4 separate regions of the Homo sapiens genome follow, and all the other regions are linked to region 1. The links come from fine-mapping of genetic effects on gene expression. A gene starts in region 1. Each other region holds a variant in brackets. All regions are shown on one strand. Distances are from middle to middle.

Region 1 (8,107 bases):
ATCCCTTTATTTTCAATTCTGTAAAATGACACCACCAGTGCTTGCCCACAAGCTCATCTTTTTTTTTTTTTAACATAGTAGTAACTACCTGATATTCTAGTTCTTTTATTATATTTTCCAAGTTTTTATAATCTTTTGGTTACTATTTTAATGGTTACCAAAATTACATTTTGATACTTAATGCACTTATTTAGGGCATTGAGGCCAAAAGGTTGAATTACAGGAGAGATGGAGGATTGTGGGGAGAGCAAGGGTGAGTAGGGAGAGGAAGGAGGGAAGAGGGAGGAGTCAAGTCACTGAGGGCAGAGGGCAGAGGTCAGAAGGCCAGTGGGATCCTGGTCCCTGCTCCTCCACTTTTCCTGGGATTCTGGAAGCTATCCAGTGTCTTTCCAACATGCTTCACCTTCCTTCCTTCCTTCCTTCCTTCCTTCCTTCCTTCATTCCTTTTCTTCCTTCCTTCCTTCCCTCTCTCTCTCTCTTTCTTTTCCTACAGAGTCTTCCTTTGTGGCCCAGGCTGGAGTGCAATGGCACGATCTCGGCTCACTGCAACCCCCACCTCCTGGGTTCAAGCAATTCTCCTGCCTTAGCCTCCCAAGTAGCTGGGATCATAGGCGCCCACCACTACTCCCGGCTAATTTTTGTATTTTTAGTAGAGATGGGGTTTCACCATATTGGCCAGGCTGGTCTCAAACGCCTGGCCTCAGGTGATGCACCTGCCTCGGCCCCCCAAAGTGCTGGGCTTACAAGTCTGAGCCACCGTGCCCGGCTGTTTTCTTAAATTGGATGGAAGTGGTTTCTCTTGGACGTTAGGTTCCGTCCTCTGTCCGACCCTGCTGGCACATGGGGGTGCTGAGAAATATCTGTCGAAAGAGTTAACAAGTCTTAAGTGATTCGAGCACTTTCCATCTTAGAGGACAGTGTGCGAGCACTCGCCCTGGGCTCTCCTGCCAGCAGGGGTCCCCCAGGGACTCTCTTCACTTTATTTGCCCTCGCAGGAATCTTCTTTCAGTTCCTCCTCCTCGGAGGCCACGCTTCCCCGACTTCTCTCGCTGGAGGCTCCACACTCCACTCACCACTGAACGGATGGCTGCCCTGTTCCTTTCGGCTCCTGCTCAGATGCCCCTTTTCCAGGGCATCCCGAGGGCCCTGTCTGAAATCACACTTGCCCTGACTACCTGCCCCTGTACTGTCTCCTTGTTATTGTTCTTCATAGCAATAAACAATTCCTACAGCGTATGTTAATGTTGTTGTCTATCGCCTCCAGTCAGAAAGTTCATGAGAGTAGAAACTTTTTATTTTGTTCACCGTTCTTTCCCCTAAACAGAGACTCCCATAGGCTGGTGCCCCACTCACTGATTCAACAAATATTTATCGAGTCTGCCTACTATAAAGGATAAATACATAAAATAGTGCGATAGCCAGGTGTGGAGGCTCACACCTGGAATCCCAGCACTTCCGGGGGCCGAGGCAGGAGAATCTCTGGAGCCCAGGAGTTTGAGGCCAGCCTGGGCAACATAGCAAGACCCTGTCTGTACAAAAAATAAAAAAGCCATGCATGGTGGTTTGCGCCTGTAATCCCAGAGGGTTGGAAGGCTGAGGCTGAGGCAGGAGGATTGCTTGAGGTTAAGATTTTGAGACCAGCCTGGGCAACACATTGAGACCCCATCTGAAAAAAAAAAAACTAGCTGAGCGTGGTGGCATGTGCCTGTGGTTCCAGCTATTTGGAAGGCCAAGGTAGAATTGCTTGAGCCTGGGAGGTCAAGGCTACAGTGAGTCATGATCACGCCACTGAACTCCAGCCTGGGTGACAGAGTGAGATCCTGTCTCAAAATAATAAAATAATAATAATAATAATAATAATAATGGCCAGATGTGGTGGCTCACACCTGTAATCCCAGCACTTTGGGAGGCTGAGGCAGGTGGATCACTTAAGGCCAGGAGGTCAAGACCAGCCTGAAGTCCTTTTCAAACCTTTTGTCATATTGCCCAGGCTGGAATACAGCAGCATGATCTCAGCTCACTGCAACCTCCGACTCCCAGGTTGAAGCTATCCTCCTGCCTCAGCCTCCGGAGTAGCTGTGACTACAGGGGCCCGCCACCACGCCTGGCTAATTCTTTTATCTTCTGTAGAGACAGGGTTTCACCATGTTGGCCAGGCTTGTCTCAAACTCTTGACCTCAGGTGATCTGCCCGCCTCAGCCTCCCAAAATGCTGGGATTATAGGCGTGAGCCACCGCGCCTTGCTCGGCTTTTTCATTTTCTTACCAGTATCTTGAGCAAATGTTTCTAATTTTGATAAAGTCCAATTTATCAGTTTTGTTCATCTATTGATTAATTTACAAAAATGGTATCTATGGTATACATCATGACTTGTTTGTTTGTTTTGAGAAGGAGTTTTGCTCTTGCCACCCAGGCTGGAGTGCAGTGGTGTGATTTTGGCTCACTGCAACCTCTGCCTCCCAGGTTCAAGCAATTCTCCTGCCTCAGCCTCCCAAGTAGCTGGGACTACAGGCACCTGCCACCACGCCCAGCTAATTTTTGTATTTTTAGTGGAGACAGGGTTTCACCACATTGGCCAGGCTGGTCTTGAGCTCCTGACCTCAGGTGATCCACCTGCCTCGGCCTCCCAAAGTGCTGGGATTACAGGTGTGAGCCACTGTGCCTGGCCATGATTATTATTATTATTATTATTGTTATTAGTTTGATGTTTTGATATATGCATACATTGTGGAATGGCTGAATCAAGCTAATTCGCATGTGTATTACTTCACGTTTTTAGCATTTTTTTGTGATGAGAACACAAAATCGATTTTTAGAAATCTTCAACTATACATTGTTATTAATCAGAGTCACCCTGAGGTACATAGATCTCTTGAACTTATTCCTCCTGTCTCAATTTTTTTCCTGTGTGATTTGTGTCTTGTCTAAGAAATATTTGCCTAACCTGAGGTTGTGAAGGTGTTCATGTTTTTTCCCCTAGTAGTTCTATCATTACGTTGTAACCACTTTTCTTTCTTCTTTTTTTTTTTTTTTTTGAGACATGGTCTCGCTCTGTCACCCAGGCTGGAGTGCAGTGGGACGATCTTGGCTCACTGCAGCCTCAACTTCCCAGGCTCAAGTGATACAGGCATGCACCACCACACCTGGTTAATTGTTGTATTTTTGGTAGAGACAGTGTTTCTCCTTCTCTTTTTTTTTTTTTTTAGACAGAGTCTCGCTCTGTCACCCAGGCTGGACTGCTGTGGCGCAATCTTGGCTCACTGCACCCTCCGCCTCCTGGATTCAAGCAATTCTCCTGCCTCAGCCTCCTGAGTAGCTGGGATTACAGGCACGTGCCACCATGCCTGGCTAATTTTTGTATTTTTAGTAGAGACGGGGTTTCACCATGTTGGTCAGGCTGGTCTCAAACTCCTGACCTCGTGATCCATCCGCCTCAGCCTCCCAAAGTGCTGGGATTACAGGCGTGAGCCACTGCACCCGGCCGAGACAGTGTTTCTCTATGTTGCCCAGGCTGGTCTTGAAATCCTAAACTCAAGTGATCCTCCTGCCTCGGCCTCTCAAAGTGCTGAAATTACAGGCATGAGCCACCGTGCCTGGCCTATCTTTGTAACTTTTGTGTTTAGGTCCACAGAAAGTTTTGAGCAAAGAACTACCATGATCTGACTTATGCAGATGCTTCTGGCATCACTCTGCTGTGCTGAGCCTGTGGCAGGCCCGAAGGCAGACTTCAGGACGCCTGTCGGGGACCTTTCCACCCATCCGGGCTTGGACCAGCTTGGGCAGAGTACAGTTGGGAGTAGAGGCCACATTCTGGAAATGTTTATCAGCGAGTTTTCTGGTGTTAAGTCCTTCCTCCCTCCTTGCTGAATAATAATCAACTTTATGAAGTTATTTCCTTTCTCTGAAGATTGAAGTGCTTGCGGCTTCACATGAGGCCACGTGTATGTACAGAATTGTCTTGAGCCTGGAGCAATGTTTGCTATGTATTTTAACTTTTCACTGTTTTAAAGGAAATAGCTGGTTTTACGTTTTAATCCACAGATTGTCATTCTTCAGGGATGGCAGCCCTAAACACAGCATGGCAACTCATCTACTCACTCATGAAAGATTAAAAAATGGAAACCAACGTATTTCATCTTATGCTCTGCGTCACTTCTGCTCGGACTCATAAATCCACGTCTCTTTGCTTTGGCCACTTCAACTCATATCCAAGCCTTCCTTTAATTCATGATTTATTGCTGTAAGTTGCCTCTTTTGCCAGATTTATAAACTCACTGTTCTTTATATAATACCTACTTTGTACACTAGGCAACAAGACAGTTAATTTATTGTCTATGACTTGTTACCTTGAAAAATTACATCAATGCAAAGTGATTGCCTTTTAGCCTCCATAGCCAATAAATTCATTTTTTTTTTTTTTTTGGAGAGGATGATGTCAGGTCATAGGATGATATATATAATCAGTGAGCAGGCAGAATGAGGAGACAGTTGAAAGTTCTCTACAACAGAAGCCAAGAAGGAAGCCGTCTATCTTGTGGCGATCATGTATAAGCTGGCCTCCTGCTGTTTGCTTTTCATAGGATTCTTAAATCCTCTCTTATCTCTTCCTCTCCTTGACTCCAGGGAAATATCCTTTCAACTCTCAGGTAAGATTTTTTTTTTCCCCTTATGTTAGTCTTGAAAGAGCCTTTACTAGTCTTAAATTCAATGTTAGAGATAAGAATGGGATTCCTGCTCGAAGGAGTCTGGAGTCTTGTTCTCTCAATAGTCCCAGCTTTGAAAAGAATATTAAAGGATCCTTACTGCACATTTTAGATGTAGTAATGGATACAGTTTTTTTTCTGTCTCTACAATGTAAAAGGAGAAGAGGATAATTGCTTGTTTCATGTTACCTCTGTACTCTTGTTTTGGGTAATATATACATTTTTCCAATTTTAAAAATTGCATGAAATTTAAAACATCATTACTTTTAGTTTTTACTTTAAATGAACTGGTTGAATGTAGCACTGGTTGTTCTAATTATAGATTATTAATGGATTTATTTGTTTCACCTTTTGTTTAAAAAAATCATCTGATATGTGTTCTACGAAACAAAAATGTTTACTAAAAATTTTTTAGTAAATGACAAACTAGGGAACTAGGGAGTTCATAGACTTCCAAGTATATTGATCGTTTCCTTTTGATTTATGTTAATTCAGTTTAAGTCTAAGTTGAGTTAAAGAAATACACATCAGTCAAGTAGTTTCTCATTTTGCCATTATCTTTCCATTTAGTTAGAGAAATGAGAAAGCTAATGCTTGGGGATTAGGTTCCATCAAAAACTTAACTAGATTTAATCTTATCTTTAATCTTGAGTACTTTTTAAATAGGCTTTTTTTAAATAAAGAAAAAAAACAAACAAACCCTCTTTTAAGCCAAGGATTTTATAGTTTCTCGTCTCTAAAAGTTCATCCCAAGCAGCTTTCTGATGATCGTCAAGCACTGTCATCAGGCACTGCCAACCAACTTCCCGAGTCACCGAGATGATCATTGGCTGTCCTACTAATAGTTAAACACTGGCATTAACTTTACTGAATCTCTGCTATTTACAAAGAAACAGCACACATCTCAAGATGAAATAAGTGAAAATACTCAGCTACTACTGTCATCTTAAAAAATTTTACAAGTAATTTAAGAAACATAGATGAAATGAGTGTAGCATCTCACACAAATTCGAAACAAGTGGCAGCTTATCGCAGAATTTGTTCTCATTTATTTCTCCAGAAATGTGCTTTCCTATCAGCATTTACAGATGATGAAATTTTATAGATTTTCATTAACAGTCTTTAGAAGTGCTGTGAATGTGCTCTGATGCCTTTATGATGATCTGCTCACTGTCCTCCAATCAAGGTTGCAGCTATTTGTAAGCCTGTGGCACGCTGGTCCCACACATGGCCTCCCACCCTGACTCCCACAGCCTCGAATCGCAACACAGCAGCAGGTCTGCACTTACCACGCCTCACACTCCGGTGTGCCCTTTCCACACACCTTAAGCGCACTTACCATGCATTCTATATGCCATCTGGTCGACCACATTTCACATAGGAAATGCCACAATCAAGTTCCTTACAGATGATTTTGAAGCCAATTCTAAGTATAATAATTGTATTGAAATCTTGAAGTTCAGTAAAAGAAGAGGTGATACCATCCTACTGGCTTTATAGGAAGATTGTAAACGATCTTTCTTTTTCCTCTCCAATGTCACCACCCAAATATCTAAAAGCAAAAAGGCAGTAGGCAGCAGTAGATAAGCAGAAATGAGGGAGAGTCAGACTTTTTGAACCAAAATGGTTTTGAGAAAGGCTGTGGCTTATCCCTCAGCTCTTGTTCGAGGCAGCCGAGGGGCTTGGCTCATCACGCGGGTGTCAGATCCACGTCTCCCGGCTTCCCATTCTGCTGGCTGGCACACGGGCTGGTAGCATTTCCACCTCTTCTAGAATACCACTGATGACACGTCATGAACTCAGCGTTGGAAGTTTTTCTAGTGTTCATCTCCCTATCTCTGGTGCTCGCCAAAGACACAAGGAACAGAAATAACTAACTGAAGGATGAACCCAATTCTAAGTATCTGTTTTTACTCTGTAGCACCTCATGAAGACGCGCGCTTAACTCCGGAGGAGCTAGAAAGAGCTTCCCTTCTACAGATACTGCCAGAGATGCTGGGTGCAGAAAGAGGGGATATTCTCAGGAAAGCAGGTAAAATGCTTCTCATGTTTATAGCGTGTCTGATTTAATTGCTACTGAACTTACCGTCTGTCCTCATCTAGAAGAGGTAAAGCTCTATTTTGGAATATAAAGATGAGCTATATAAAATAAGTAATTACCAACACTCTCCCCTCCCGGCCTGTGCAACCTTCTTTTCCCCAGCAGCTCCTTGCTCGCACTGTGCTCTTTGGTACCTCAGCATTTTGTCTTTCTGTGTGGACTTTTATTTTTGCGGGGTAGAGCTTGGTGGTAATTATTCCAGTTTCCAGTGAGTGCAATTTAAAATCCTAGTTTCCCGTTTACTGAAAACTTAAAGTAATCTTTCTGTACTCCAGTTTCTTAATCTGTAATCAGGAATGATTAAGTTTCCACCTCAGAAGGTAACTTGTGAAGAGTCAATGAGTCAAGGCAAGTAAAATGCTCGAGTCACACAGAAAGTCATTAATAAAATGTCAGCTTATTCCCCCGTGGCCACATTCCCCCAAGCATTGACACATATGCTCAGGAAGTTCTGGAAACAAAATTGAGCCTTTTGCTGGGTGCGGTGGCTCACACCTGTAATCCCAGCACTTTGGGAGGCTGAGGTGGGCGGATCACTTGAAGTCAGGAGTTTAGGACCAGCCTGGCCAACATGGTGAAAACCCATCTCGACTAAAAATACAAATATCAGCCGGGCATGGTGGCGGGCACCTGTAATCCCAGCTACTAGGGAGGCTGAGGCAGGAGAATTGCTTGAACCCAGGAGGCAGAGGTTGTGGTGAGCCAAGATCTCACCACTGCACTCCAGCCTGGGCAACAGAGCAAGACTCTGTCTCAAAAAAAAAAAAAAAAATTTGAGCCTTTTAAGATAGGTATTGTTTAATAGACAGGAGTTCATTTGTTATAAAATATCTTTGACGAGCTACTGGACTGCGAAGTTACTGAGGACAATGCAGTGACTTCTGTGAATTCGAGATAAGAACAGGAGTGCCTGTCTGTCTGCATTCAAGAAAAGCTTGCTGCAGTGTGGAAAAAGACCAGAAACTAGACATAATTTAGTAATATTATTTTGTATATTTTAAAACAAGCATACAAGAGAAACAACAGATCTGATGAACTGGCTTCAAAACTGTTTTTCAGACTCAAGTACCAACATTTTTAACCCAAGAGGAAATTTGAGAAAGGTAAGTGACTCTATTTATGAGTTAGGTTTAAAAAGGTGAACATTCTGTACTGGTTTTACAGGACTCTGAATTCATGAACTAGAGGAGTGTTCTTGGTGGAAACCACACCTTAAAATAATTGGCCAGCATGACCAGGCGCGGTAGCTCATGCCTGTGATCCCAGCACTTTGGGAGGCCGAGGCGGGCGGACCACCTGAGGT
Region 2 (8,107 bases), 68 kb before region 1:
CTGGCTAATTTTTGTATTAGAGATGGGGTTTCACCATGTTGGCTAGGCTGGTCTCGAACTCCTGAGCTCCGGTAATCTGCCCACCTCGGCCTCCCAAAGTGCTGGGATTACAGGCATGAGCCACCGCACCCAGCCTATAAACTTAAAAAAAATTTTTTTTAACTTTTTGACTCTTTTGTAATAACTCTTAGCTTAAAACACAAGCACATTGTACAGCTGTACAAAAATATTTTCTCTTTATTTCCTTATTCTATAAGCTTTTATCTATTTAAAAGTTTTTAAATTGCTTTTTACTTTTTAAACTTTTTTTGTGAAAAACTAAGACACGAACACACTTATTAGCCTAGACCCACACAGAGTTGGTGTCTGCCACCTCCACATCTTGTCCCACTGGAAGATCTTTGGGGCAAAAACATGCATGTAGCTGTCATCTCCTATGAGAACAATGTCTTCTTCTGGAATACCTCCCAAAGGACCTGCCTGAGGCTGTTTTACAATTAACTGGTTTTTGTTTGTTTGTTTGTTTGTTTGTTTTTTGTTTGAGAGGAGTCTTGCTCTGTTGCCCAGGCTGGAGTGCAATGGGGCGGTCTCGGCTCCCTGCAACCTCTGCCTCCCGGGTTCAAGGGATTCTCCTGTCTCAGCCTCCCGAGTAGCTGGGATTACAGGTGCATGCCGCCATGCCTGGCTAATTTTTTGTACTTTAGTAGAGACAGGGTTTCACCAAATTGCCCAGGCTAGTCTCAAACTCCTGAGCTCAGGCAATCCACCTGCCTTGGCCTCCCAAAGTGCTGGGATTACAGGTGTGAGCCACAACACCCGGCCTTAACTGGTTATATATATATATATATATATATATATATATATATATATATGGAATATACTATGAAATAACTATAAAAAGTATGGTATAGTAAGTCCATAAACTACTAACATAGTCATTTATTGTCATTGTCAAGGATTATGTGCTGTACATAATTGCATATGCTACACTTTACACAACTGGCAGCTCAGTAGGTTTTTTACATCAGTATCACCACAAACGTGAGCAATGAGCTGTGCTGCAATGTTATGATGGTTGGACATCACGAGGCAATAGGAACTTTTCAGCTCCACTATAATCTTATGGGACCACGATCATATATGCAGTCTGTTTTTGACCAAAACGTTGTTGTACGCTGTATGACTGTATTCTAATGCAGGAACATAGTATGTCTCTTCATTTATACATTTTAAAATTTATTTCACCAGCATTTTGTAGTTTTCACTATACAAGTTCTGTATGTGTTTTGTTAGATTTAGGCCTAAGTAAAAAAAAAATTTTTTAGAAGTCAGGGTCTTGCTTGCTCTATTACCCAGGCGGGAGTGCAGTGGCATGATCACGCCTCAATGCAGCCTCAACTTCCTGGGCTCAAGTGATCCTCCCACCTCAGCCTCCAGAGTAGCTGAGACTACAGTCATGTGCCACCACCCCTGGCTAATTTTTAAATGTTTTGTAGAGACAGGGTCTTGCTCTGTTACCCAAGCTGGTCTAGAACTCCTGGACTCAAGCGATCCTCCTGCCTTGGCCCCCATAGTATTGGGATTACAGGCGTGAGCCCCCACACCCAGTTTCTGGATCTAATTTAGATCTTGTATTTTCTCAGGGTTCCTCTGACATCACTCTAGGGAAGGAAGGAGGATGGGCAGCTCGTTACGGCCAGGCAGGGGTGGAGGAAGTTTGGGTTCTATGCTATACCTCCTGGAGGGTGAGGGTCTCCTTTTTACTGCTAGACACGTGGGAGTTCTAGCTCCCACTAGGCCTCCTCTGACACTACCCCAGGAGGGAGGGGGAGATGAGCCTTAATCAGCCGTGAGGGTGGAAGTCCAGGCTCTCTACTCAGTCCTTCCTGGTGGGCTTGCAGGCGGAGCCACGGTGTTTTTTGTGGTGTTTTGTTAGAATTGAGTGGTTATTGTCTAGAAGTTTTTGGACCAGGTGTGGTGGCTCACGCCTGTAATCCCAGCACTTTGGGAGGCCCAGATGGGCGGATCATAAGGTCAGGAGTTTGAGACCAGCCTGGCCAATATGGTGAAACCCCATCTCTACTAAAAACACAAAAATTAGCCGGGCCTGGTGGCGGGCACCTGTAGTCCCAGCTACTCAGGAGACTGAGGCAAGAGAACCGCTTGAACCCAAGAGGCGGAGGTTGCAGTGAGCTGAGATCACGCCATTGCACTCCAGCCTGGGCAACAGAGTGAGACTCCATCTCAAAAAAAAAAAAGAAAAAAAAAAGAAGTTTGTAGTCTTGCTATGCTGCCCCTTTCCTGGTCTCATAACTAGAGAGTACAAGCTCCTCTTAGTTTTTTATGTGTTTTTTTGAGATGGAGTCTTGCTCTGTTGCCCAGGCTGGAGTGCAGTGGTGTAATCTCAGCTCTCTGCAACCTCTGCCTCCTGGGTTTAAGCCATTGTCCTGCCTCAGACTCCCGAATAGCTAAGATTACAGGTGAGCGCCACCATGCCCAGCTAATTTTTGTGTTTTTAGTAGAGACAGGGTTTCGCCATGTTGGCCAGGCTGGTCTCGAAATCCTGACCTCAGATGATCTGCTTGCTTTGGCTTCCCAAAGTGCTGGGATTACAGATGTGAGTCACCACGCCTGGCCTCTTCTTGGTTTTTGCTTTGTTTTGTCCACGCTATTGGCATTTTTAGAGTGCTGCTTCTCTAGTTCCCAGTCAGAGGGAAATGAGGCAGAAAGAAACCCATTGCCATGTTGTTTCTTGGGTCTGGAGATCCTGACCCAATTGGCCTTCCTCTCTCTGCCTTTCTGAGAGGTTTTCAGCAGTACTCAGCAGGACAAATACGGAAAACATGACATCTCAATCTTTCCAGAAGAGATCTCCATTTTGAAATTCAACCTGGGAACAATTTCAAAAGACATCCCGTTGGTATTTCTGAACATCTTGCCAGTTTTTCATAAGTTCTAGGAGATGGTGTGGTTATTTTTTATAGCAACAAGCATATGAAATCGGGGTAGGACTTTTTGCCTTGCCAGTCTGTAAATAAATATCTGCTTAGGATTGAAATTTGCGGAGCAGTAACACAAATACTTCACTAACATGTAAAAGAAAGCCTGGCAGCTCACGCACAGATCGGTTCTTGGTTCCTAACAGATGGAAGCAGTGGGGATACCTTCACAATCCTGGAGTCATAACACTGCATTCCAAGGAAACCATCGGATCTCGAATCTCAGTAACCCTCAAGACGAAAATAAGTGCTGCTGAATTGAAACTAGAGCTATGATTGGGATATGGCTAATATTTTATGGTTTAGTGATTCATGCTTAAGATTCATGCTTTTTTAGCTAATGTAGAAAATAAAGAAAATAGTTCTTAAAGACCAATACAAATATTTGGTAAGAGGAAACAAATTTCAAATAATCTCTAGAGGAAGTTCATCCTTGCTGTTACCTCTCTTGTGGATGAGTTTGTTAAAATTATTATTACTATTATTATTATAATTTTTTTTAGATGGAGTCTCACTCTGTCACCCAGGCTGGAGTGCAGTGGCGCAATCTCAGCTCACTGCAACCTCCACCTCCCAGGTTCAGGCGATTCTCTGCCTCAGCCTCCCGAGTAGCTGGGATTACAGGCGCCCACCACCACGCCCAGCTAATTTTTTTGGTATTTTTAGTAGAGACGGGGTTTCACCATCTTGGCCAGGCTGGTCTTGAACTCCTGACCTTGTGATCCACCGGCCTCAGCCTCCCAAAGTGCTGGGATTACAGGCATGAGCCACTGCGCCCGGCCTGTTTTTGTTTTGTTTTGTTTTGTTTTGTTTTGTTTTGTTTTGTTTTTTGAGACAGAGTTTCGCTGTTGTCACCCAGGCTGGAGTGCAATGGCGCCATCTCAAGTCACTGCAATCTCTGTCTCCTGGGTTCAAGCAATTGTCCTGCCTCAGCCTCCTGAGTAGCTGGGATTACAGGCACCTGCCACCACGCCCGGCTAATTTTTGTATTTTTAGTAGGGATGGGGTTTTGCTATGTTGGCCACGCTGGTCTTGAACTCCTGACCTCAAGTGATCTGCCCACCTCGGCCTTCCAAAGTGCTGGGGTTACAGGCATGAGCCA[C/T]CACGCCTGGCTGAGTTTGTTAAAATTAAAGGGGAGAATGTTTGCTGCTTAGAGATGTTCTGCAGCTATAATTTATGGAAAATAAGTGTTAAATGATTCAAATAGACAACAAAATATACGTATCTTAAAATTTTTTTTTTAGCATTTATGAGACCAGTACAAACTACTCAAGAGGAAGATGGCTGTAGCTGCCGATTTCCAGAAGAAGAAGAAGGAGGATGTGAACTGTGAAATGGAAGTCAATAGGGCTGTTGGGACTTTCTTGAAAAGAAGCAAGGAAATATGAGTCATCCGCTATCACAGCTTTCAAAAGCAAGAACACCATCCTACATAATACCCAGGATTCCCCCAACACACGTTCTTTTCTAAATGCCAATGAGTTGGCCTTTAAAAATGCACCACTTTTTTTTTTTTTTTGACAGGGTCTCACTCTGTCACCCAGGCTGGAGTGCAGTGGCACCACCATGGCTCTCTGCAGCCTTGACCTCTGGGAGCTCAAGTGATCCTCCTGCCTCAGTCTCCTGAGTAGCTGGAACTACAAGGAAGGGCCACCACACCTGACTAACTTTTTTGTTTTTTGTTTGGTAAAGATGGCATTTCACCATGTTGTACAGGCTGGTCTCAAACTCCTAGGTTCACTTTGGCCTCCCAAAGTGCTGGGATTACAGACATGAACTGCCAGGCCCGGCCAAAATAATGCACCACTTTTAACAGAACAGACAGATGAGGACAGAGCTGGTGATAAAAAAAAAAAAAAAAAAGCATTTTCTAGATACCACTTAACAGGTTTGAGCTAGTTTTTTTGAAATCCAAAGAAAATTATAGTTTAAATTCAATTACATAGTCCAGTGGTCCAACTATAATTATAATCAAAATCAATGCAGGTTTGTTTTTTGGTGCTAATATGACATATGACAATAAGCCACGAGGTGCAGTAAGTACCCGACTAAAGTTTCCGTGGGTTCTGTCATGTAACACGACATGCTCCACCGTCAGGGGGGAGTATGAGCAGAGTGCCTGAGTTTAGGGTCAAGGACAAAAAACCTCAGGCCTGGAGGAAGTTTTGGAAAGAGTTCAAGTGTCTGTATATCCTATGGTCTTCTCCATCCTCACACCTTCTGCCTTTGTCCTGCTCCCTTTTAAGCCAGGTTACATTCTAAAAATTCTTAACTTTTAACATAATATTTTATACCAAAGCCAATAAATGAACTGCATATGATAGGTATGAAGTACAGTGAGAAAATTAACACCTGTGAGCTCATTGTCCTACCACAGCACTAGAGTGGGGGCCGCCAAACTCCCATGGCCAAACCTGGTGCACCATTTGCCTTTGTTTGTCTGTTGGTTTGCTTGAGACAGTCTTGCTCTGTTGCCCAGGCTGGAATGGAGTGGCTATTCACAGGCACAATCATAGCACACTTTAGCCTTAAACTCCTGGGCTCAAGTGATCCACCCGCCTCAGTCTCCCAAGTAGCTGGGATTACAGGTGCAAACCTGGCATGCCTGCCATTGTTTGGCTTATGATCTAAGGATAGCTTTTTAAATTTTATTCATTTTATTTTTTTTTGAGACAGTGTCTCACTCTGTCTCCCAGGCTGGAGTACAGTGGTACAATCTTGGATCACCGCCTCCCAGTTTCAAGTGATCTCCCTGCCTCAGCCTCCTAAGTAGCTGGGACTACAGGTATGTGCCACCACGCCTGGCTAATTTTTATATTTTTAGTAGAGACGGGGTTTCACCATGTTGTCCAGGCTGGTCTCAAACTCCTGACCTCAGGTGATCTGCCCACCTCTGCCTCCCAAAGTGCTGGGATTACAGGCATGAGCCACCATGCCTGGCCATTTCTTACACTTTTGTATGACATGCCTATTGCAAGCTTGCGTGCCTCTGTCCCATGTTATTTTACTCTGGGATTTAGGTGGAGGGAGCAGCTTCTATTTGGAACATTGGCCATCGCATGGCAAATGGGTATCTGTCACTTCTGCTCCTATTTAGTTGGTTCTACTATAACCTTTAGAGCAAATCCTGCAGCCAAGCCAGGCATCAATAGGGCAGAAAAGTATATTCTGTAAATAGGGGTGAGGAGAAGATATTTCTGAACAATAGTCTACTGCAGTACCAAATTGCTTTTCAAAGTGGCTGTTCTAATGTACTCCCGTCAGTCATATAAGTGTCATGTAAGTATCCCATTGATCCACATCCTTGCTACCCTCTGGTACTATCAGGTGCCCTTAATTTTGCCAAGCCAGTGGGTATAGAATGAGATCTCACTGTGGTCTTAGTTTGCATTTGCTTGGTTACTGATGAGCACCTTGTCAAATATTTATATACCATTTGTGTTTATTTTTTTAAATAAAATGCTTGCTCATGCTTTTTTGCCCATTTGCAAAAAAACTTGGGGCCGGGTGCAGTGGCTCATGCCTGTAGTCCCAGCTCTTTGGGAGGCCAAGGTGGGCAGATCGCTTGAGCCCAGGAGTTCGAGACCAGCCTTGGCAACATGGCGAAACCCTGTCTTTACAAAAAATACAAAAATTAGCCGGGTGTGGTGGTGTGCACCTGAAGTCCCAGCTACTCAGTAGGTTCGCTTTGAGCCTGGGAGGCAGAGGTTGCAGTGAGCTGGGACCGCATCACTACACTTCAGCCTGGGCAACAGAGAAAAACCTTTTCTCAGAAACAAACAAACCCAAATGTGGTTGTTTGTCCTGATTCCTAAAAGGTCTTTATGTATTCTAGATAATAATCTTTGGTCAGTTATATGTGTTAAAAAATATCTTCTTTGTGGCCAGGCACGGTAGCTCACACCTGTAATCCCAGCACTTTGCGGGGCTGAGGTGGGTGGATCATCTGAGGTCAAGAGTTCAAGATCAGCCTGGCCAACACAGTGAAACCCCATCTCTACTAAACATGTACAAAACTTAGCTGGGTATGGTGGCGGGTGCCTGTAACCCCAGCTGCTCCAGAGGCTGTGGCAGAAGAATCGCTTGAACCCAGGAGGCAGAGGTTGCAGCGAGCCAAGATTGTGCCATTGCACTCCAGACTGGGTGACAAGAGTGAAATTCTGCCTATCTATCTATCTATCTATCTATATCTATATATATATATATATATATCCTTTGTAATTTATTTTTCCCTTTTTAAAATTTTTTATAAAATTCTTTTTTATTTTTATTTTTAGCAGAGGTGAGGTTTCTGAGGTTTCATTATGTTGCCCAGGCTGGTCTTGAACTCCTGAGCTCAAGTGATCCTCCCACCTCAGCCTTCCAAAGTGCTGGAATTGCAGACATGAGCCACCGCGCCCCTCCTGTTTTTCTCTAATTAATGGTGTCTTTCTTTGTCTTTCTGGTAATAAGCAAAAAGTTCTTCATTTGATTTGGTTAAATTTATAACTGTTTTCTCATATGGTTAACATTTTTTCTTGCCTGGCTAAAGAAATCCTTTTCTGCCCAATACTATAAAGAGGTTTGCCCACATTTTATTCCAAAAGTTTTAAGTTTTGTCTTTCATCTTGAAGTCTAATGTATCAGGAACTGGCTTTTGTGCCTGTTGGGAGGTAGTGATCCAATTCCATGTCTTGCATGTAGGTAACCACTGGTCCCTGCGCCATGTATTCAATACGTCGTCTTTCTCCTGCGGGTCTGCAATCTCACCTACCATCCATCAAGTTTCCATAGGGCCATGGGTCTGCTTCTGGGCTCCCTGTTCTGTTCCATTGTCAATTTGTCTATCCTGTGCCAGTATCACACTGTGTTTATTACAATAGCTTTGTAACAGCTCTCGATATCCGGTAGGACATCTCCCTCCACCTTCTTTTTCTACTTCAGAAGTGTCTTAGCTAGGTCAGGCACGGTGGCTCACGCCTGTAATCCCAGCACTTTGGGAGGCCGACGCGGATGGATCACCTGAGGTCAGGAGTTTTGAGACAGCCTGGCCAACATGGTGAAACCCCATCTCTACTAAAAAATACAAAAATTAGTCAGGCATGGTGGCATGTGCCTGTAATCCCAGC
Region 3 (8,107 bases), 46 kb before region 1:
GGGGAAGCAGGAGAAGGAGGGGAAGGAGGGGAAGCAGGAGAAGGAGGGGAAGGAGGGGAAGCAGGAGAAGGAGGGGAAGGAGGGGAGGAGGGGAAGGAGGGGAAGAGGGAAGGAGGGAGGGAGGGAGAAAAGCCAGACAGTAAACTGGAGAACAAAAAACGCTCTACCACAAGAGGGCAGTAGACACCACCAGCGCGCAGGCCTCCCTCGGGATCAAAGGGAAGGCTCTGAGCGCGGAAGGAACCCCGCATTCTCTAATTTAGGCCTCTTCTTCAGGGATGGGAAGGAGATGGCTAAAGAGGTTCAGCGACTTACCTGAAACCACGCCGCCAGTGGCCCGCCTCTGTTAAAGGCTAACGTGCCGCCTAATTAAAGGGAAGGAAATAGGAGGCGCTGGCCGGGGAAGCTGGCTCACTTCTTCAGCACTTTGGGAGGCCGAGGTGGGAAGATCACGTGAGGTCAGGAGTTCAAGACCAGCCTGGCCAACATAGCGAGACCCCCGTCCCTATAAAAAATTAGATTAACAACAACAAAAAGAATTAGGAGGCTCCTTAGTAGGGACGCCCTTCCCCCATAACTTAATAGTCCAACAATGATGTGCAAGTCGCCAAAAGAAAGAAAATGTATGGGGAGTGGAAGTATAGAAAAAGCCGCACTGACGACCCAGGCCATCTTTAGGCCCCTGTGATGTGAATGGGAATGATTTTCAGAGTCTTTACCAAAATGACTACATTGTCAGAACTTCCCCGACTTCCCGCTTTCCCCCAGAGAATCACCCCTTCCCTGTTGAGGAGACAGGCAATCTGCCCAGAGCCCAGAGAGAAGATAATTTCTAACTTCCATACAAAAAAGCAGGGTGGTCCCATCAGGACAAAACTCTCCCTGAAGGAGTCAGGTCTGTATAACCCTCACCCGGGGGCAGAGATAGCCTGGAGCCCAAAGGCTGTGTCTGATCCCAGACCCTGTTGTAGGAGCTGGTGGGGAATTGCCACCCTCCGCAGTCCTCCCTACCCAGAGCCACAGAGCCCCAAAGCTTCCCTCCCAGCCTGGTGTTACCAGCGCTGAGTCCAGCCCTGCTCTCAGCCACCCCGGTCATTCTCTCCCACCTCATCCATCACCCTCTCCCTCGCACCCACTCCCTCTAGGGTCGCTGGATTTCCTTCTGCTCCTTGAATCCACTAAACTTTTCTCTGGCTTAGGACATTGGAGTTTGCTGTTCCTTCTTTCTCAAATGCTTTTCCCTACAGACCTCACACGTTCCGTGATCTGCTGGGCCAGTCTGTGTGGATCCTCACAGGCATCTCAAACCCAGGATGTTCCAAACTGGCCGAGGGTTTTTGTTTTGGTGGCACTGGATTGAACCATCTCCTCCACGAAGTCCATTTCCTCACACGAAGTCCGTTTCCTCATTTGTAAAATGAAGACAATAGCACCTACCTTACAGGCTTTTTGTGAGGATTAAATGAGAATATAAATATATATATACACACACACACACACACACACACATAGATGAATATATATACACATCCAAGTATATAGCAGCTGTATGTATATATTTACATACATACATATGTATATAGCATATACATGTATACATATAAAGCAAGTAGCACAGTGCCTGATCCATAGAACACCTCAATGAATGGAAACCTTTACAGTAAATGCTAACATTTTCCTCCATAAAGCAGCTCCTTCCACCTCCTCTCCAAGGCAGACATCAGATTAGTACCTTTTGACTCTTTCCTCTCTTTCACCACCCACATTTAATGAAACAACAAATCCCAGTGTGTATTTCTAGAATCCAATCCATTCTTCACATCCTACTCTCACTGTCCTAATTCATGCCTGTGTTATTTCTGGCCTGGATTACTGCAGTAGTCTTCCAATAGCCTGCTTCACATCCAAGCTCCATTACTTAATCTATGTAGAATGAAAGCTTACCATGCGATAACAGACTACTATGAACGGGTTTTTGCCAATACATTTGAAAACTCAGACAAAATGACCAATTCCCTAGAAAAAACGTAACTTACCAAAACTGACTTAAGAAGAAAGAAAATGTATGGATAGTCATAAAATGATTAGGGAAATTGAAACAGAAGTAAAAATCTTTGTCAAATTAAACTTAGACCTGGATGACTTTCCAGGTAAGTTCTCTTAAACTTTCATGGAGTGGATCATTCCTATTTTATAAAAACTCTTCCAGAGAATAGAAGAAAGTGGTTTATCTTCTCCTAGGTATTCTGTGAGGCCAGTGTAACCTTGATACTAAAACCAGGCAAGGACAGTAAAAGAAAAAGAGGCAAAAACATGAAACAATTTTTTTTTTTTGGAGATGGAATCTCACTCTGTAGCCCAGGTTGGAGTGCAGTAGCATGATCTGAGCTCATTGCAACCTCCACTTCCCTGGTTCAAGCAATTCTTCTGCCTCAGCCTCCTGAGTAGCTGGGATTACAGGCGCCAGCCACCACTGTGCCTGGCTAATTTTTGTATTTTTAGTAGAGATGGGGTTTTTGCCATGTTGGCCAGGCCAGTCTCGAACTCCTGACCTCAGGTAATCCACCTGGCTTGGCCTCCCAAAGTATTGAGATTACAGGCGTGAGCCACCACACCTGGCCAAAACAAAATATTAATGTGGTGTTTCATGCCCACACATTATTTAACCTACCTTGCTCGCTTCCTTCCTTCCTTCCTTCTTTCCTTCTTTCTTTTTTTGGAGACAAGTTCTGGCTCTGTCGCCAGGCCAAGTGTGGTGGTACAATCAAGGCTCACTGCAGCTTCCACCTCCCAGGCTCGGGTGATCCTCTCACCTCAGCCTCCTGAGTAGCTGGCAATACAGGCATGCACCACTGTGCCTGGCTAATTTTTAAATTATTTATAGAGAAGAGGTTTCACTATGTTGCCCAGGCTGGTCTTGAACTCCTGAGCTCAAGTGATCCTCTCCTGCCTTGGCCTCCCAAAGTGCTGGAATTACAGGTGTGAGCCATTGTGCCTGGCCATTCATTTGATATTTCTACATTCAGGAAGTGGAGCTAAGCTTTCCTCCACTTGAGCATGGAGTGACTTGCATCTGATGATTCCAGGTTATAAAAAGTCTGTGGCTTCCGGGTTGGGTACACTCTCGCTCTCTCTGCGATTGCTGTCTCTGGAGGAAGCCAATTGCTGTATCTGAGAGGCCTACATGTTGACAGTCACACAGTGAGCCTGGAAGCAGGTCTTTCCCTCGTGAAGCTTCCAGATGACTTCAGCTCTGACCAACACATTGACCACAACTTCCTGAGAGACCCTGAGCCAGAACTACATAGCTCAGCCACTCCTGGACTCCTGAGAAAACATGTTATAACAAATGCTTGCTGTTTCAAGACACTAAATTGTGGGATAACTTCTTACGTTAATATAGTTCACAAACAAAATCTAACAGTGTTTAAAAAAGATCATAAAGACAGGTGCAGTGGTTCGTGCCTGTAGTCCCAGCTACTCAGGAGGCTGAGGTGTGAGGATCACCTGAGCCTGGGAAGGTTGAGGCTGCAGTGAGTCATGATCACGCCACTGCACTCCAGCCTGGGCATCAGAGTGAGACCTTGTCTCAAAAAATAAAAAGGACTAGATAAGAACTTCCTTAACTGATAAGGGATATCTAAAGAAAAAAATTAGTAAACATTATTATTTTATTTTTTTAAAACACCTAACTGCATCGACTCAAAGTAAACATTATTCTTAATGAGAAAATGTTGAAAGTGTTTTACTTATGAGCTGAAACAG[G/A]ATAAAGATGGTCACGATCGCTGTAGGGTCCCTCAGGCCTCTGTTTTCTTTCTGTGTCCTTACCGAAAATCAGATTGCCTTGACTGCTCTCTGATATGGTTTGAATCTGTGTCTTCAGCAAATCTCTTGTCTAATTGTAATCCCCAATGTTGGAGATGAGGCCTGGTGGGAGGTGATTGGGTCATGGGGCGGATGCTGTTCTCATTATAGTCAATGAGGTTTCACAAGATCTGGTTGTTAAAAAGTGTGTGGCACCTCCCTCCTCTCTCTCTTCCTCCTGTTTTGGCCATGTAAGATGTGCCTGTTTCCCCTTCACCTTCTGTCATGATTGTAAGTTTCCCAGGGCCTCCCCAGCCATGCTTCCTGTACAGCCTATGGAACCTCGAGCCAATTCAACCTCTTTTCTTTATAAATTACCCAGTCTCAGGCATTTCTTTATAGCAGTGTGAGAATGGACTAATACAGTAACCCAGCCAACTGTATAGGTTTTGTCCAACAGGCTTGAACCCAAATCAGGGCCTTGAACATTTCCAGGCACTGATGAAAGTATCTAGGTTTACTTGAAAAAAACTGTCCCTAGCTCTGGACCAAACCTTCATATAACTCTATATTCTGGGAGGCCGAGGTGGGTGGATCACGAGGTCAGGAGATCGAGGCCATCCTGGCTAACACAGTGAAACCCCGTCTCTACTAAAAAATACAAAAAAATTAGCCGGGCGTAGTGGCAGGCACCTGTAGTCTCAGCTACTCGGGAGGCTGAGGCAGGAGAATGGCATGAACCTGGGAGGCAGAGCTTGCAGTGAGCCGAGATCGCGCCACTGCACTCCAGCCTGGGCGACAGAGTGAGACTCCGTCTCAAAAAAAAAACAAAAAACAAAACTCTATATTCTGAGCCCCCTTGCTGTGAGATACCTGGTCAGAGCACCCCTTCTCTCTCTGTCCATCTTGAGGGTACTCTGCAGTTCTCGGTATATAAGTTCCCCTAATAAATGCTTTTTTCCAGGCTGGCATTTAGTGCTTTTTTTCTTTGTAAATTTAACTGGCCTGATCTCAGGACAGCTTGCGGTACTCCTTTTTGGGAATTCCCCTGCCTCCACTTTTGGGGGTAACTCCAGCCACAGGTTTGGACAAAACAATCGCCACTTATATTTTACATGTATTGGGGTTTCTAGACAGTAACTTATGACAAGAAAAAAGAAATTTAAATTTTGAAGATTCCAAAGGAAGAAACAAAACCATTCTTATTTGCAGATGGCATGGTTGTATACATGGACAACCCTAAATCTGTAGAATACTAGAAATAACAAGAGAAGTTTATCAAGATGGTTGGTCATAATATTAATGTACATTAATCAGTTGACTTGTAACCTATTAGCAACAATGCATAGTAACAACAAAACCAGAAGGTACCTAGGAATGCTCTACCAAAAGAAGGATGCGACATATATAAAGATTATGAAACATGGTCGGGCACGGTGGCTAATGCCTGTAATCCCAGCACTTTGGGAGGCTGAGGTGGGTGCATCACCTGAGGTCAGCAGTTCGAGACCAGCCTGGCCAACATGGTGAAACCCCATCTCTACTAAAAATACAAAAATTAGCCGGGCGTGGTGGCGGGTGCCTGTAATCCCAGCTACTCAGGAGGTTGAGGCAAGAGAATTGCTTGAACCTGGGCGGTGGAGGTTGTGGTGAGCCAAGATCGCACCATTGCACTCCAGCCTGGGCAACAGGCTGAGCATAACTCTGTCTCAAAAAAAAATTATGAAACATTAATGAAAGACATTAAAGAAGACCTAAAAAATGGAGAGACATAATATGTTCATGGATAGAAAGCCTCCATATTGTAAAGATATCTTTCTCTCCAAATTGATTTATAGAGTCAGTACAGTTTCAATAAATGTCTCAACAGGGATTTTCAAGGAACTTGACAATATGACTCTAAAATCTTTAAAATTTATATAAACAAGCAAAGGGTGAAGAATAGCCCAGTCATTCCTAAACAAGAATAGGATACAGGGACTTTCCCTACCAGATAAACAAGCATTAAAAGATGTAGTAATTTACAAAGTGTGGTATCAGCAGAAGGAAAAAGAAGTTGACCAATGGAATGGGAATGGAGATCCCAGAAATAGATTTACTACACGTACAGTGATTTTCAAACAGGAATATCCCCAAGAACTCATTGTTAACATAGTAAAAAGTAAACAGATTCTTAGAAGCTATATAATGACTCAATGCACATCATCAAATATGCCAAGACAAAGAAAATGTAGAAACAGAAATCTCATGTAATTTGGAAGTGAAAATGACTCAAATATAATTTTATACATAATTTATAAAGCTTTTTTTTTTCAGCCAGGCACAGTGGCTCATGCCTGTAATCCCAGCAATTTGGGAGGCCAAGGTGGGTGGATCCCCTGAGGTCAGGAGTTCAGGACCAGCCTGGCCAACATGGTGAAACCCCATCTCTACTAAAAGAATACAAAAATTAGCCAGGCATGGGGGCACGCACCTGTAGTCCCAGCTACTGGGGAGGCTGAGGCAGGAGAATTGCTTGAACCTGGGAGGTGGAAGTTGCAGTGAGCTGAGATTGCACCACTGCACTCCAGACTGGGAGACAGAGCGGGACTCTGTCTTAAAAAAAAAAAGCTTCTTTTTCAATATACAGGTTCTGATGAACCTAATTGTCAAAGAAAAATTGAAAAAAGTCTAGCATCTGGCACAGAAAATCTTATCAGATATTACAGTGACTATATTATAAAAATTTTTACATAATAAAATAATTTATTTTTCTAAACCTATATGGAATAACATTTTAAAACTTCTTAAAGACTTCCTCAGGAACATTTCATTTTCCACTAAGAACAACACACACATACACACACAAATATTAAAATTGTATTCAAAGCCTATAATTTATACTTCAATATTATAAGATTAATGCTCAGTTACATGAATGTTTGGTAGAAATCACCTGTAAAGCCATCTGGGTTTAGGTTTAATTTGATGAAGTTTTAACCTCTGTCTTAATTAATCCATCTAGAACTGATTTTTATGTTTGGTGTGAGGTAGGGACACTTTTTTTTTTTTTCATGGATAAACATCCCTTCCCCACTTATCTGCAATATCACTTTTGAGAACTCAAGTATCTAATTACAGAAAAAATGAAAACACAGTTTTTGAGCTTAACTGAGATATTGAAGTTCAAATAACACCTAGAAAACAATTCTACTCTACACTGATAATATTTTCCTTGGGAAGCATTTTCAGGAGCATTTTCATTTGAAAGGGAGATGTGGCATTTGCTCCCTTTACTTCTGTTATCTTGTCTGATGACAGAAACACAGACTGTCATTTATCTCAAGTACTGATATAAAGGTGCATGTTGCATCTAGGGTTTAGCATATCCAGCACTGGCTTGGAAAATGGAGAGAACCCAGACTTTGTACCATAATGGCTTGACGCATATCCTCAAATATGCCGGGACTAAGAAAATGTAGAAGCAGAAACCTCATGTAATTTGGAAGTGAAAATCACTCAAATAGAGTTTTATCAATAATTCATAAAACTGCTTTTTCAATATACACAGATCCCATGAAGCATATCCAACTCTTTTATTTCAGTTACAAAATGAAATTCCTGAATGAACTTTAGCGATTTTTGAGTAAAAAGTTGAGATTGGGCAATTCAAGCTCTTGTTTGGCTCTTATTTTGAAGGAGGATTTTTCAGTTTCCATCACGTCAGATGGTAGTTATCTGTCAATTAATAATTGACAATTTACTGATTTTAAAACAAGCCTGCACTCCTCATCTTCCTTTTACTGAGATTTTCAGTCCTGAGAATTTTCTCCTGCACTAAGCACAGCAGCTTTGAATCACTCTGTTCCCTAAGAGTTAAAGGGAATAGGATTAAGGGGGAAAAAAGATCACTGTAGACATTTTCAGTTTAGGCCTAATTTTTATTTATTTATTTATTTTTTTGGGATGGAGTCTCGCTCTTATCACCCAGGCTGGAGTGCAGTGGCTCAATCTCAGCTCACTGCAACCTCTGCCTCCCGGGTTCAAGGGATTCTCCTGCCTCAGCCTCCTGAGTAGCTGGGATTACAGATGCCCACCACCATGCCTGGCTAATTTTTGTATTTTTAGTAGAGACAGGGTTTCCCCATGTTGGCCAAGCTAGTCTCAAACTCCTGGCCTCAAGTGATCCACCCATTTCAGCCTTCCAAAGTTCTGGGATCACAGGTGTGAGCCACCGTGCCAGGCCTAGGCCTAATTTTAACCGACAAATTGAGTCATATGCTGTCCTTATGCACAAAGCCGACGAAGAAGATACAAATTAAAC
Region 4 (8,107 bases), 250 kb before region 1:
ATTCTCCTTTCTTGTACCATTCTTGCCTGCTTTTTTAGTTTTGTGCTTATACAAATTGATTTGGGTCTCAATTCATTAGGGAGTCTTTTCTTCATTCCTGTGACTTGGAAGAGTGTGCGATACTGAGATTATTACTTCTTTGAACAGTTGGTAAACTTACCTGTAGAAATACCTGGGCTCGATAGTTCCTTGAGGAGAGATTTTATTGTCTGTTTCAATTTCTTTGTTATTTTTTTTAGAAACAGGGTCTTGCTCAGTTGCCCAGGTTGGATTGCAGTGGCACAATCACAGCTCACTGCAGCCTCGACCTCCCAGACTCAGGTGATCCTCCCACCTCAACCTCCTGAATAGCTGGGATTATAGGCACGTGCTACCGCCCCTGGCTAATTTTCGTATTTTTCGTAGAGATGGGCTTTCGCCATATTGTCCAGGTTGGTCTTGAACTCCTGGACTCAAGTGATCCTCCTTGGCCTCCCAAAGTGCAGGGATTACAGGCATGAGGCAAGGCACATGGCCTGTTTCAATTTCTTTAATGGGTTTAGAACCAGGCAGGTTTACTATTTCTTCCTGAGTCACTGTTGATAAGGTATCTTGCTCTGGTAACTTATCAGTGGATAGTCTTAAAGATGTTTACAGGGTCCTCTTATCATTTGGAGCTCTGCTGGGCCTGTATTTATGGGTCCTATTTCAGGCTTGACTTGGTCCTTCTCTCTTCTGGCCTTGATCAGTTTTGCTGAAGTGAGTGTTTCTTTTTTTGGTCTTTTCGAAGAACCCATTTTTCCTTATGAATCCTTTCTATTTCTTTGTTATCGATTTCACTGATTTCTGTTTTTATTTTGAGTATTCCCTTGTTTTTACTTTCTTCACATTCATTCCGAAGTCCTTAATCCAATTTGTTACACTGAATGCTTGGCTCACTAATTAACAGCAGCAGTTCCTTTCTAATATAAAGAAACATTTACGGCTAAAATTTTTACTCTAATTATTGCTTTAGCAAGATTCTTCCAGTTCTAATGTGTAATTATTTTTCTCATTCACTCTCAAATACTTCCTTGTTTCTATAATGATATTTTATTTTATATTACATTATTTAGAAACTTTTAAATTTCTAAAAGTATGGGGAATTTTAGGTACAATTTTGTTTTGTTTTGTTTTGTTTTTTGAGTCGGAGTATCTCTGTTGCCCAGGCTGGAGTGCAGTGGTGCGATCTCGGCTCACTGCAACCTCTGCCTTCCAGGTTCAAGCGATTCTCCTGCCTCAGCCTCCCGAGTAGCTGGGATTACAGGCACACACCACCATGCCCAGCTTTAAATGTCCCACTTCTTAATACTTTTGCATTGGAGATCAGGTTTCAACATAGGAATTTTGGGGGATGGGAGAGGCACAGACATTCAGACCACAGCATAGCATGTGGTTATTGCTTTTTATTGCCAAATAACACTCCTGTGTGGATGTACGTGACATTTTACTTATCCATTTATCTGCTGATGGACATTTGGGTCGTTTCTGCTTTTTTACTATTAGGAATAATGCCGCTATGAGCATTTGTGTACAAGTTTTTCACGGACATATATTTTCGTATCTCTTGGGTACATAATTAGTTGTGGAATTGCTGGGTCATATGGTGACACCATGTTTAGCTGTTTGAGGAACTTGCCAAACTGCTTTGCAAAGCAGCTGCGCCATCTTAAAATCCCACCAGCAGTGTACAAGGCTTTCAGTTTCTCCACTTCCTCATTGGCACTCGTCATTATGTCTTTTTTATTATTGCTTAGTCCTTTTTGCCCAACAGCTTGTACTGCGCTTGACACAGGGCATGTACTTAAATATTTAATTACAAACAATGTAATGATCTTTCTAATTACAGCATGTTTTAATTCTCATGTGTATGTTATATACATTATGGTTACATATGTTATACACAATATGGCTAAAGTATTATTATATCTTGCACCAGTCATTAAATTCCTTATTTTAAGCTATACTGCTGTTTGGGTAGAAGGCGTGAGGGAAGAGGCAGGGAGCACGTCTCACCAGTGATAGTCACAGCCAATAACCTAAGCCACAAAGGGCCACATCCGTGATGAAGGACATATAGACCAATTCTTGTCATTACACAGGCCAAGATCTAATTTCTGGATAAAAGATTAGAAAAGATTTTCATTTTACTACAGACTGATGTAGCTGATGTTAGCAATGCAGTTCCATTTTTCTCAAAGGCATTTTATTACTGAGTCAATAAGATTATCTAAATTTTTTAAGTCTACATATTTTCTATGGGTCTCAAATCTATTCTGATTTTAAATAGGGACTTTTTTTAAAAATCTTTTTTCTTTTTCCTGACTTGACTTCATGAAAAATAGGTTGTCACCACAGGACTAGATAACCATGTATTAGTCAACAATGTTTTTCCTAATAAGGAGTCTCACACTGGAATCCAAAAAAAAATTTTTTTTTTTTTGAGACGGAGTCTCATTCTGTCACCCAGACTAGAGTACAGTGATGCAATCTCTGCTCACTGCAACCTCCGACTCCCGGGTTCAAGCAATTCTTCTGCCTCAGCCTCCCAAGTGGCTTGGATTACAGGTGCCCGCCACCACACCTGGCTAATTTTTGTATTTTTATTAGAGACAGGGTTTCACCATGTTGGCCAGGCTGGTCTCAAACTCCTGACCTCAGGTGATCTGCCCACCTCGGCCTCCCGAAGTGCTGAGATTACAGGTGTGAGCCACCGTGCCCAGCCAAGGAAACCAAAGTTAAGAACAGAAACTCTGCACGGCCTGAGAGTCTTGGTTCAGGAAGAAAGAAAAGGTTTACATTTTAATAGCAAGGCCATTTTGGTGTTTGTCCTGAGAGCCAGAAAGACAAGTGATTTGCTAAAATTGTTCGTTTATTCATTGGTTCACCCAATATACATTCAATAGCATGAAAATATACTTTGTTTCCAACACACCTGCAGATGGTCCCCAGCATGGTCTGACTTGGTTACTATGACCTACGGATCTCCTTCCTGGGTTATAATCAACACCTCAGACAGCATCCTCCTCCTAAATATAGTTTAAATTATATTACCTTAAATATAGGTTCCCTATGCTCATCCACATGATGCTCATTAATATTTATCCAGTCACTCATGCTTCCCTTGCAACTGGTCCCCATGACCTGGAAATTTGAAGCAACCACAGCCATATTGCTTTTTGCAGACTGTTTATTTGGTGATCAAAACAAGTGTGTAGCACATTATGGGTCCTCAATAAACATTGAAATAATAACAGATTCCATCCTTAATAATCACTGGCTTCAAAAAATTAATGAAGCAGTTGCCTTCATACCTCCATATGGTCAATAGAAACTGTGATTACTTGCTGCCACGACCTCTATCTGCAAATGACACTATGGAGTTAGATGATTGGGAACACGTGTCTCAGCTTTGTGTCAAGGTTTGACTTCAGGCACGCCAAGGTGTGTCTTAAAAGGTAGATCAAGTGGCCTGGCACGGTGGCTCATGCCTGTAGTCCTAGCACTTTGGGAGGCCTAGGCGGGAGGAATGGTTGAGCCCAGGAGCTCGAGACCAGCCTGGGCAACGTGGCAAAACCCCATCTCTACCAAAATACAAACATCAGCCAGGCATGGTGGCTCGTGCCTGTGATCCCAGCTACGCAGAGTGGGAGAATCTCTTGAGCCAAGGAGGTTAAGGCTGCAGTGAGCCGCGATGGCACCACTCACTGTACTCCAGCCTGAGTGGCAGAGCAAGACCTTATGTCCAAAAAAAAAAAGGTAAACCACTGGATGCAGGAAGTAGGGCTCTCTGTTGACCTGAGGGCTCTAGGCAATGTCTTAATCTCAGTCTTGTCAGCTTTGACTTTTGTCCCTAGTGAAAGGGCTTGTGTTTCCTCTTTCTGTCTAAGGGGAATTCTCCTTACCTAACATGCTGTTTCTCCCCAGCCCGTGCACTTCCTTATTCTGCAGCCCCTTCTAAACTCTGGGCGAATGGCAATGATTGGAGCAGAAGATGGGGATAATGACGTCACCAGATGGGAGTCATTTGCTGAAGCTGGGACTCATGTGGGGTTAGGGGGCGGCAATATGGCAAGGAGCAAGGCTGCCATGCATTACAAAAAATCATTATAATGGCCCCTCAAAAAAATTTGAATAGATGAGCCTTGTAGACATTATGCTAAGTGAGATAAGGCAGTCACAAAAAGACAGTCACTGTATGATTCCACCTACATGAGGTACCGAGAACAGCCAAATGAATAGAGACAGAAAGTAGAATGGTGGTTGCCAGCGGCTGCAGAAGAGGGAGTGGGGGGTTGTTTAATGGGCACACAGTTTCAATCACGCAAGATGAGAAAAGTTCTGGAGGTTTAAACTCAACCTCATTAAGGTATAATTTACATACCATAAAATGTATAAACTTTAAGTATGCAACGTGAGTTTCGACAGATGAATATGTACACCCATGTAACCATCATCACGATTAAGCTATAGAATATTTCTGGCTGAGCACAGTGGCTCACGCCTGTAATCCCAGCACTTTGGGAGGCTGAGGCAGATGGATCACCTGAGGTCAGGAGCTTGAGACCAGCCTGGACAACATGGTGAAACCCCATCTCTACTAAAAATTAAAAAATTAGCGGAGTGTGGTGGTGCATGCCTGTAGTCCCAGCTACT[C/T]GGGAGGCTGAGGCAGGAGAATCACTTGAATCCGGGAGGCAGAGGTTGCAGTGAGCTAGATTGTGCCACTGCACTCCAGCCTGGGCAACAGAGTGAGACTCCGTCTCAAAAAAAAAAAAAAACCCACCCACACACAAAAAAAACAGATAAAGGACATTTCTATCACCCTAAAAGGTTCCCTTACGTCCCTGCCTGGTAAATCTGGACCAACCCCTCCTGGCCCAAGGCAACCAGAGACCTGTCTTCTAGATTTGCTTTTTTTTTTTTTTTTTTTTTTTTGAGACAGAGTCTCACTCTGTTATCCAGGCTGGAGTGTGGAGACACGATCTGAGCTCACTGCAACCTCCACCTCCCGTGTTCAAGTGATTCTCCTGCCTCAGCCTCCCAAGTAGCTGGGATTACAGGCACCCATCACCACGCCCGATTAATTTGTGTATTTTTAGTAGAGACAGGGTTTTACCATGTTGGCCAGGCTGGTCTCGAACTCCTGACCTCAGGTGATCCATCTGCCTTGGCCTCCCAAAGTGGTGGGATTACAGACGTGAGCCACCACACCCGGCCCTAGATTCACTTTGTCTTTCCTAGAGTTTCATATAAATAGAATCATACAGTAGATACCCTGGCTTCTTTCACTGGGCATGTTTTTAAAATCCATCCATATGAATCATTAATTTGTTCCTTTGTATTTCAAAATAATCTCATTTTTATAGACATGTCACAATGTATTCATTCACTGTGGATGGGCATTTGGGTTGTTTCTGGTTCTTTGACAATTATTATGAATAAAGACTCAATGTCTTTATTGGTAAATGTCTTTATGTGAGCCTGTGCTATCACTTCTCTTGAATAAATGCCTAGGAGTGGAATAAAGTCACATATATAACTTCATAAGAAATGGTGGAGCTGTTATCCAGAGCGGTCTTACCATGTTGAATGACGACCGTAAACATACGATAGTTCCAGGTGTTCCACATTCTCACCAGCACTTGGTATTGTCATGTTCTTAAATTTTAGCCTTCCAATGGGGTTTTAGTTTGTATTTCCCTGATATCTAATGATATGGGGCATCTTTTCATGAGCTTGCTGTACTGAAAATACTGTCTCCCAGTCTGTGACCTGCCTTGTCATTTTCTTAACAGTGTCTTGCCAAAATCAAAAGTTTTTAACTTTGAAGTCTATTTTCAATTCTTTTATAGTTCATACTTTTTATATCTAGCTGAGAAATCTTTGCCTATTCCAAGGTTACAAAGATTTTTCTCCTATATATTCATCTCTAAGTTTTATGTTAAGGTGTATGATCCATTTCAAGCTAGTTTTATGTAAGGTATGAGATAAACATCGGGGCTCCTGTTTTCCACGGAGATGTCCAGTTTTTCCTGCATAATTTGTTGAAAAGACTGTCTTTCCCCTCAACTGAATTATCCTGGCTACTTTGTCAAATATCAATTTACTAGGTATATGTGGGTCTGTTTTCACTTTTCTGTTCTATTGAGCTGTCTATTTGTGTAGTGATACCACACCGTCTTAATTACCGAAGCTGAATATTAAATCCAGAAATCAGGTAATATGAATTTTCCAATGTTGTTCTTTATTTTCAAAATAAGTTTATTGGGTTCTTTGTGGGCTCTTTTTGTTTCCACATCAATTTTAAGAGCAGTTTACCATTTGCTACAAAAGCTTTGCTAAAATTTTACTTGGCATTGCATGGTCTCTACAAATTAATTTGGAGATAATTGACATTTAAAAAAATATTGAGTCTTCCCATCCACAGCATGGTCTAGCTACCTATTTATTTCTATATTTTAAATTTTCTCTTAGCAGTATTTTAGAGTTTTCTATAGATTGGTTTTATTCTTATTTTCTTAAGATTATCCCTAAGTACTTCATGATTTTTGAAGCTATTGTAAGTGGTATTTTTATCTGAATTTTCAATTGTTTGAAAATTGAAAAATTCAATTCTCAATTGAATTTCAATTTGTTACTATTACATATAGAAATTTAACTATTTTTTGCAATTGTATATAGAAATTTCAATTAATATTGACCTTGTATCCTTCAACCTTAAAAAACTCACTCTTTATAGCTAATAACATGTTTTGTTTTGTTTTGATTTTGGTAGATTCCTTTGGATTTTTTATGTTCAAGATTATGTTGCTTGTGAGTAAAAATAGTTTTACATCTTTCCAATATGTGTGGGTTTTATTTATTTTTCTTGCTTTATTGCACGAATGAGGACCTCCAGTACATGTTGAATAGCAAAGGTGAGCGTGGACATCCTTGTCCTTTCCCAATCTCAGGGAAAAGCAGTGTTTCACTATTAAGGATATTGTTAGCTGTAGGGTTTTTTTGAAGCTGTCCTTCATTAGGTTGAGGCAGTTCCCTTTTATGACCAATTTGCTGAGAGTTTATGAGTGGGTATGAAATTTTTTCAGAAGTGTTTTCTTTTCGGGGGAACGGGGTACATCTACTGAGATACTGTGTAGAGAAGAGTTAACATGGCAGGGCTGGGACTGCTCTCCTTTGAAAGTCCTGTTTGCAGCCAGGTGCGGTGGCTCACACCTGTAATTCCAGCTCTTTGGGAGGCCAAGGAGGGCTGATCATTTGAAGTCAGGAGTTTGAGACCAGCCTGGCCAATGTGGTGGAACCCCATCTCTACTAAAAATACAAAAATTATCTGGGTGTGGTGGCAGGCGTCTGTAATCCCAGCTACTAGGGAGGCTGAGGCAGAAGAATCACTTGAAGCCGGAAGGCAGAGGTTGCAGTGAGCTGAGATCCCACCACTGAACTCCAGCCTGGGCAACAGAGTGAGACTCCATCACACACACAAAAATAATAATAATAATAATAATAATAATAATAATAAAATCAAAAATAAAGAAAGTCCTGTTTGCAAATGTTAGCCTTTGGCTGGCATCTGCGACTTAGATTTTAGGAGGGTTCCCGTTATTCCCAGGCCTCATGAGAGTCTCACGTTGCCTAACCTGTTTGGTACAAACCATGTGGTTTACGCTGAACACCTATTTTCCTTTTTTGAGGGGAGTCTGGAATTTTGGTATGTGCCATGCAAAGGTCGCCTATGTGACCAGCCCCTTGTGAAAACCCTGGGCTCCGAGTCTCTGCAAGTTTCTTAGAAGACAACATTTCACGCATGTCACAACTCATTGCTGAGGGAGTTCAGCACGAGGAAATGAATTTTGGAAACTCACACCAGACTTCACCCCAAGTGCCTTTTGACTTCGCTGGTTTTACTTTGTGTTCTTCCTCTGTGATAAATCTTAGCCATGAGCATGACTAGATCCTGAAGCCCGTGAGTCCTCTCTAGGAGGCGAATCTGGAGGAGGCCTTAGGGACCACCAACACAGATATCAGAAATTTTTTCTCCTTTATTCTGTGAGTTACATCAATTTAGTTTGAAAATTAAACCAATCTTGGG

Evidence for each region. PIP is the estimated chance that this variant, and not a neighbour inherited with it, causes the effect.
Region 2: its variant is fine-mapped to the expression of UTS2 in whole blood (TOPMed, PIP above 0.99).
Region 3: its variant is fine-mapped to the expression of UTS2 in blood mononuclear cells (TOPMed, PIP above 0.99).
Region 4: its variant is fine-mapped to the expression of UTS2 in whole blood (TOPMed, PIP above 0.99).

What each region holds. Positions count from the first base shown.
Region 1 is chr1:7,849,440-7,857,546 of GRCh38, reverse strand. UTS2 (urotensin 2) reads left to right here and starts at 4,482. Exons shown (of 4, transcript NM_006786.4): 1 at 4,482-4,646; 2 at 6,625-6,735; 3 at 7,864-7,907. The coding sequence starts at 4,544. RefSeq lists an enhancer at 4,274-4,962.
Region 2 is chr1:7,917,060-7,925,166 of GRCh38, reverse strand. It overlaps TNFRSF9 (TNF receptor superfamily member 9), which reads left to right. Exons shown (of 8, transcript NM_001561.6): 8 at 4,244-8,107. The coding sequence ends at 4,332. Among named protein-coding and RNA genes, the nearest start is that of TNFRSF9, 20 kb to the left of the region's middle. The variant C/T (reference allele first, on the strand shown) is at 4,102.
Region 3 is chr1:7,895,009-7,903,115 of GRCh38, reverse strand. It overlaps a transcript of UTS2 not described here. Among named protein-coding and RNA genes, the nearest start is that of TNFRSF9, 42 kb to the left of the region's middle. The variant G/A (reference allele first, on the strand shown) is at 3,766.
Region 4 is chr1:8,100,578-8,108,684 of GRCh38, reverse strand. All of the region lies in intron 2 of ERRFI1-DT (ERRFI1 divergent transcript), which reads right to left. Among named protein-coding and RNA genes, the nearest start is that of ERRFI1-DT, 78 kb to the right of the region's middle. The variant C/T (reference allele first, on the strand shown) is at 4,675.